2 linked regions of the Homo sapiens genome follow. The protein of the gene in region 2 interacts with the protein of the main gene of each other region in a pairwise test. Each region holds a gene or a part of one and is shown on either strand. Other genes may lie near its edges.

Region 1 (3,649 bases), on a different chromosome or scaffold from region 2:
AGATCTGGAGACCTGGTGTACAGCATCGTTCTATATTAATACTGTATTGGTGTATTGGATACTGTACTTGAAATTTGCTAAGAGAATAGATCTTAATTGTTCTCCCCACACACAAACAAAATGGTAATAATGTGAGGAGATGGATATGCTAATTACTTTGATTGTACTAATAATTTCGAAATGTAGACTTTTTTTTTTTTTTTTGAGACAGAGTTTCATTCTTGTTGCTCAGGCTGGAGTGCAACGGTGCAATCTCGGCTCACTGCAACCTCCGCCTCCTGGGTTCAAGCGATTCTCCTGTCTCAGCCTCCTGAGTAGCTGGGATTACAGGCATGCGCCACCACGTTTGGCTAATTTTGTATTTTTAGTAGAGACGGTGTTTCCCCATGTTGGCCAGGCTGGTCTCCAACTCACGACCTCAGGAGATCCACCCATCTCAGCCTCCCAAAGTGCTGGGATTACAGGCGTAAGCCACTGCGTCCGGCCTTCGAAATGTAGACTTTTAAGAAAATATCTTACTACACATCTTAAGTATATACAATTTTTCTTTGTCAATCATACCGCAATAAAGCCGAGGGAGAAAAGATTCAATTTGTGAGCAATTACGGGACCATTCTAATTTTCTGAAAAGAAAAACAGTATCTCATGGGGTTGTTTCTTATCACTAGATTCCAGGATATGTGTACAGCACTTAGAGCCTACAAGTAGGAAATACGATGTCAATGTTAGCCTTTATTGGTTTTTTTTATTTTTTTATTTTTTTTTTCCTCTCTCAAATCATGGGAGCCTTTGTTATTATTTTTGCCCTTGGGGAGCCCATGGTCTGGTAGGGCCCAACCACATTGTAGGGGCTGTTGGGTTGTTTGCGTTTGTCCTGCCCCTCACTTCCTCCTGGTTTTATTTCCTTTGGGGACACCACTCTCCCACTCTAAACCCCCAAGGTTTGGGTGGCTGACTCCGCCCCCTGGCAGGCCTACCCAATCAGTGTATTCTACCCACCAGGCTGCTGTGATTGGGTCAGTGCAGGCCACCTGACCCAAGTTGGTCCAATGAGACTCCGTGTAAGTCCATTTGGGCCACCACACCCACCCGGGCCTGCAAGGGGAGGAAGCTGACTTAAGAAGGAACTCAACGCAGAGGAAAGCAAAATGGAGACATGGAGGGAGACGCCAAGTTCCAGTGACATTAAGCCCCTGAATCCCACCATGGCTGAACTTGCATTACTGAAGCCCTCCTGAGTTGAATTTCTGCCTCTTGCAAATGAAAGAGGCCTGATGAATACCCACATAGTTCAATTTCAATATACGAAGGTAGGCACTGAGATTTCAATATCAGAAGAAGGGCACTTGGTCAAATCTGGGGACTCAGAGACTTCCTGGAGGGGGTGACGTTGGGGCCAGGAAGGGCAGTCCAGGCACAGGGAACTGCATGAGTAAAGGCAAAGAGGTTTGAAAATGATGGTTGCAGCCGGGCGAGGTGGCTCACGCCTGTAATCGCAGCACTTTGGGAGGCCAAGGCGGGCGGATCACTTGAGGTCGGGAGTTCGAGACCAGCCTGGCCAACATGGCGAAATCTCGTCTCTACTGAAGATACAAAAATTAACCGGGCATGGTAGCAGGTGCCTGTAATCACAGCTACTTGGGAGGCAGGAGAATCGCTTGAACCCAGGAGCAACAGAGTGATTGGCTAGCCAATACATTGATTGGCTAGGCCTGCTAGGGGGGCGGAGTCAGCCCACCCGAACCTTGGGGATTTAGAGTGGGAGAGGGGTGTCCCTAAAGGAAATAAAACCGGGAGGAAGTGAGGGGCAGGACAGGCGAAAACAACCTGTTTTTTTTTTTTTTTTTGTAGCCCCTACCAAAAAAAAAAAAAAAAAGACACTGATGGATGCTCATGACTATGCCTTCCGTGGGTGGCTTCAGTCTCTCCTACCGCAGGCAAATGCAGGAGACACATGGGAATCAATAGGCTGGGAATTAGAGGGGAAAGGTGCTTTTTCTCTGCTAGTCCATTTTGAAAAATCTCATCTCAATTTTTTGATTTGCCCAGTTGGATTACGTGCTCATTTCTGTGACCAAGGTAGCAGGGGCCTGTTATTAGAAGAAGGTGAAGAGTGAGAGCAGGAGGCATCCAACAGTCGAGTTAGGGGTTGATACGCACAGTATATGGCCTGTGCTGGGGAAAGTCCCTAGCCTAACAGTACTGGAGTACCTCGTATAGGAGTCCTGAGACCTGGTTTTAAGATCTCGCGTTTTCTTTTTCTTTCCTTTTTTTTTTTTTTTTTTTTTTTTTTTTTTGAGACGGTGTCTCGCTCTGTCGCCCAGGCTGGAGTGCACTGGCGCGATCTCGGCTCACTGCAAGCTCCGCCTCCCAGGTTCACGCCATTCTCCTGCCTCAGCCTCCTCAGTAGCTGGGACTACAGGCGCCCGCCACCACGCCCGGCTAATTTTTTGGATTAGAAAACGCGAGGTCTTGGCCGGGCGCGGTGGCTCACGCCTGTAATCCCGGCACTTTGGCAGGCTGAGGCGGGCGGATCACGAGGTCAGGAGTTCGAGGCCAGCTAACCAACATGGTGAAACCTCGTCTCTACTGAAAATACAAAAATTAGCTGGGCTTGGTGGCGTGCATCTGTAATCCCAGCTACTCAGGAGGCTGAGGCAGGATAATCGCTTGAACCTGGGAGGCAGAAGTTGCAGTGAGCCGAGATCACACCATTGCACTCCAGCCTGGGCGACAGAATGAGACTCTGTCTCAAAAAAAAAAAAAAAAAAAAAAAGACCTGGCATTTTCTGCTACTGTTTGGGTGACTGAATCAGTTGAGGGTTCGGGGTCCAGACGACCCAACAGAAACCATACTGCACTGTCTTCTGCAGTGCAGTGATGCTGGTTGTCGGAACACTGAAGACCCTAGGACAGTTTGAAATGCTAGTTATTTCAAATAGAGAAAATTTAATACAGGGGATGGAAGAGCTGAGAGTCTGCACAGGACACAGTGAGGCAAACCAAAACTTATCAAGTAGGAAAATAAGGGGAAAAGGCTGGGCATGATGGCTCACACTTGTAATCCCAGAACTTTGGGAGGCCAAGGTGGGCAGATCACTTGAGGTCAGGAATTCGAAACCAGCCTGGCCAACATGGTGAATCCGTGTCTCACTTATTTATTTATTTGTCTTTTTTTTTCTTCCTTTTTGTGGAGAACGGGGTCTCGCTATATTGCCCAAGCAGGCCTTGAACTCCTGGGCTCAAGCTATCTCCCACCTCTGCCTCCCTGAGAGCTGGGATTACAGGCGTGAGCTACCGCACCTGGCAAGTGAATCCCCATCTCTACCAGAAAATACAAAAATTGGCTGGGCGTGGTGGTGTGTGCCTTTAGTCCCAGCTACTTGGGAGGCTGAGGTACAAGAATCACTTGAACCTGGGAAGTGGAGGTTTCAGTGAGCCGAGATCGCAGCACTGCACTCCATCCTGGGCGACAGAGCACAACTCTGTCTCAAACAAGACAAAACTATATCAGGAAGTGAAGAGGATTCCTCCATCCTGTCACTAAGATGCTGGCAGCCATGTGTATCATGCAGAGGTATACTTGCAGGAGGAGAGAAAAAAGGCCAGCCAGGGAGAAGCAGATAGATGGAGAAGTTGTCCTAAGCCT
Region 2 (3,649 bases):
GGGGGGGGGGGTCCCTGCGTCCCTGCCACAGATAGCGAGGTCCTGGGGGGATGCCTGTGTGCCTGCCACAGATAGCGAGGTCCCCGGGGGGGTGCCTGTGTCCCTGCCACAGACAGCGAGGTCCCAGGGGGGTGCCTGTGTCCCTGCCACAGGTAGCGAGGTCCCGGGGGGGGTGCCTGTGTCTCTGCCACAGCTAGCGAGGTCCCGGGGGGCGGGGGTGCCTGTGTCCCTGCCACAGATAGCGAGGTCCCGGGGGGTCTCCCTGTGTCCCTGCCACAGATAGCGAGGTCCCTGGGGGGGTCCCTGTGTCCCTGCCACAGATAGCAAGGTCTCACGGGGGCAGGGGCTGCAGTCCGACGGTCTGGGCCACGTCACGCCCACACTTGGGTCAGAGCCAGGCAACACCCCTAAAGTCACAGGAATGGGGAGCTGCTCACCCCCAAAGGCAGCGGGCGAAACATGGCGGAGAAGAAGAACTCCTGGTGGGCAAAGACTGGGTCACCCTTGGCTGGCCACGCCCCGGACTGGCCACGCCCCATTGGCTGGCCACGCCCCCTCGGTCACCTGCGCTGCGCCACGGCCGACTCCTGGGCCCAGTGCAGCTGCCCAGCAGGGGAGGCCTGGGGTGGGCGAAGCCGGGCTCTGAGCTGTGTTAATGCATTAACTTAGAGTCCGCATATCACAGTAGAGTGCTGTTTATAAGAAACCAAAATGTTTTTAAAGTTGTGCTAAAAATAAGTTAACATTGCAGCAGATGTTTTTCTCCATCAGACATTTCCCTCCATGGTGGTCTGGCAGACGTGGGCCGGGCATGGGCAGCTGTCACCCAGCCCCCGGGGACTTAGAGCTGCGGGGCACGGTGGGGCGGGCTGCAGGGAGCAGACCCTGCTGGGCCGCTGATCCCTGACCCAGCGTCCCCACTGTCCCCGCCAGGTGGTGGCCTCTGCCATCCCCGACGACCAGGGCTGGGGCGTCCGCCCTCAGCAGCCACAGGTGGGTTTGCGGCCCCTCAGACCCCTGCCTGGCCTCACCCAGCTTTCTGGGAAAGAAAATGCTGCACAAGCTCTGAGCCCTCCTGGGGCTGCGAAGTTCCTCTGATGGGAGGTGTGGGGTGGCCATCCCATCCCTGTGTAAGACCTGGGGAAACCACTCTTCAAGGTTCAGGAGGAGGGAGGGCGGCCCCCGACCCTTAACCAGAGCGAGGTTGTTGCTTTGTGTCCACAGGGACCAGGAGCGAACCATGATGCCAGGTAGGAGGGGCTGACTGGGCCCTGCGAGCGCGTGCCTTTCCTGCTGGGCAGAGGCCCTCCACATGGGGCCACGCGGGCCGGGCACAGGAGGGCAGTCAGATGGGCAGGGCCTGAGAGCCTCCCTCCTCTCCCTAGGTCCCTAATCATGGACTCCCCAAGAGCTGGCACCCACCAGGGCCCCCTCGATGCAGAGACAGAGGTCGGTGCTGACCGCTGCACGTCGACTGCCTACCAGGAGCAGGTGCGTGGGCCTGGGCCTCTTCCCCTGCTGGGGGTCGGTGCTTCTGCTGCCTCCGCAGACTGGGGACCACAATGGGACCAACATGAGGGTGGAGGGAGCAGCTCGCTGGGGGGTAGACGGGGCCGGGCTCACCCGTGGTCCTGGCCCAGCCCAGCCAGATGGGAGGATGCCTGGCTGTGCCCGAGGCGAGTGGGCATTGGCCATCAGGACAGGAGAGAGGTGGTGTCCAGTGGAGACATCCACGTAGCCCTGCAGGCCCTCAGCCCCCAGGACCACCTCAGTTTGGCCATTGCCCCTCCCCTCCCACTGGGGTGCGAGTGACCAGGAGTGACCCAGCTGGGGACAGGCGGGAGGCAGGACAGCTCTGGAGGGGCCCCAAGGCTCCCGCCCCCCATGGGGGCCCAGCAGCGACTCCATCCCCCGAGTCCTCCCGGACACCCCGGCACCTGGGGAGAGGCGGAGGAAGGCAGGAACCCCAGCTGCTCCCAGGGTGGCAGCCGTGGGCGGAGGCTCTGCTGCAGGATCCGGGAGGCCCAGAGAAGGCACCTGCATTTCACGCTGAGCGCATCTGAGGATGCGATCAGGAAGCAGCCCCGGCACTCTCTCTTTATGGATGCCCACTTCCAGTTTAACCGTGGCATCCCGGGGGCAAGGGCGCCCTCCAAGCTGTGCTTCACTAATTCCCTCAGGGTTTGGAACTATTTGCCCAGTTCCCACGATGGGCCTTTAAGCTCTCGTCCTTCCTAACCTAAGGCAACTTCAACCATCTGATAAATCTAATAATAAGTTACAATCGAGGCCGGGCACAGTGGTCTGTAATCCCAGCACCGTGGGAGGCTGAGGTGGAAGGATTGCTTGAGCCTGGGAGGTGGAGGCTGCAGTGAGCCATGACAGTGCCACTCCACTCCGGCCTGGGCAAGACAGCAAGACCCTGTCTCAAAAAAAAAAAAAAAAAAAGCCAGGCGAAGTGGCTCACGCCTGTAATCCCAGCACTTTGGGAGGCCTAGGCAGGCGGATCACAAGATCAGGAGATCGAGACCATCCCGGCTAACATGGTGAAACCCTGTCTCTACTAAAAAATACAAAAAATTAGCTGGGCATGGCGGCGGGCACCTGTAGTCCCAGCTACTCAGGAGGCAGAGCCAGGAGAATGGCGTGAACCCAGGAGGCGGAGCTTATAGTGAGCCAAGATGGCGCCACTGCACTCCAGCCTGGGCGACAGAGCGAGACTCCCTCTCAAAAAACAACAGCAATGCCTGACCCTCAGGGTCTAGCCAGCGCTGGGCTGTGACTTTGTGACTTGCAGCTGGTGAACTGGTCTCCTGCTCAGTGCCCAACTCAGGGCACACGGTTAATGTCGAGCCCACACAGAGGCCGGGGCCCAGGGACTGGGTCCTCAGCTTCCTGGGGTCACTGGGGAGCCCACCCACCTGGAGCTGCCACCTCGGTGGGCCTTGGGGGACGGGGCGCTCCCTCCTGGTGACAGGCAGCCTCTAGGTCTGCAGGGACCCAGCCCCATCCTAAGGCAGCCGACTTGTGGCCAGTGCCCTGAATTCAACACCCACAGACCACCTGCTGGGTGCTGGCCGGGCACACAGGCCACACCCTTGGTGTGGGCTCTGCGAGGACAGTACCGGCCTCCAGCACCTGACCGCCCCAGCCCACCCAGCCTGTGCTTCTCTTGCAGAGGCCCCAGGTGGAGCAAGTTGGCAAACAGGCTCCTCTCTCCCCAGGTATGGGCGTCCTCAGCGGCGGGGTCCCCGGGTGAAGGAGGAAGCTGCTGGTGCATGGGTGCCGGCTGCCCTCCACCCACAGGGCCCACTTTGGTGGTAGTGGCTGTGTCAGTCTTGCTCTGTCCTACAGGGCTGCCGGCAATGGGGGGGCCTGGCCCCGGCCCCTGTGAGGACCCCGCGGGTGCTGGGGTAAGAGGCTCTAGACCCTTCACCTGTCAGTCACCTGAGGGAGGCTGAGGCCAAGCCCCATCCCTCAGAATCAAGGCTTGCAAGCCCCCCTCACCTGCCCAGTCTCTGTCCACACCCCTCGGGCTGAAGACGGCCCTGACCAGGCCCTGGGCCTCAGCGACCACCCCTCCCCCTCCTGCCTGGACCCAGGGAGCAGGTGCAGGGGGCTCCGAGCCCCTGGTGACTGTCACCGTGCA

The links.
Region 1: the proteins of NOXA1 (region 2) and MORN3 interact in binary tests that used the Homo sapiens proteins (3 or more experiments, as listed by UniProt).

Annotation. Positions count from the first base shown.
Region 1 is NC_000012.12:121,663,012-121,666,660, forward strand, and holds part of MORN3 (MORN repeat-containing protein 3), read right to left. Parts: intron 1,311-3,649; exon of another isoform or gene 1,079-1,310; intron 1-1,078. UniProt on the Homo sapiens protein: Assembles a suppression complex (suppresome) by tethering SIRT1 and MDM2 to regulate composite modifications of p53/TP53.
Region 2 is NC_000009.12:137,429,851-137,433,499, forward strand, and holds part of NOXA1 (NADPH oxidase activator 1), read left to right. Parts: intron 1-771; coding exon of another isoform or gene 772-900; exon of another isoform or gene 901-925; intron 926-933; coding exon 934-993; intron 994-1,224; coding exon 1,225-1,250; intron 1,251-1,385; coding exon 1,386-1,491; intron 1,492-3,178; coding exon 3,179-3,224; intron 3,225-3,354; coding exon 3,355-3,413; intron 3,414-3,602; coding exon 3,603-3,649.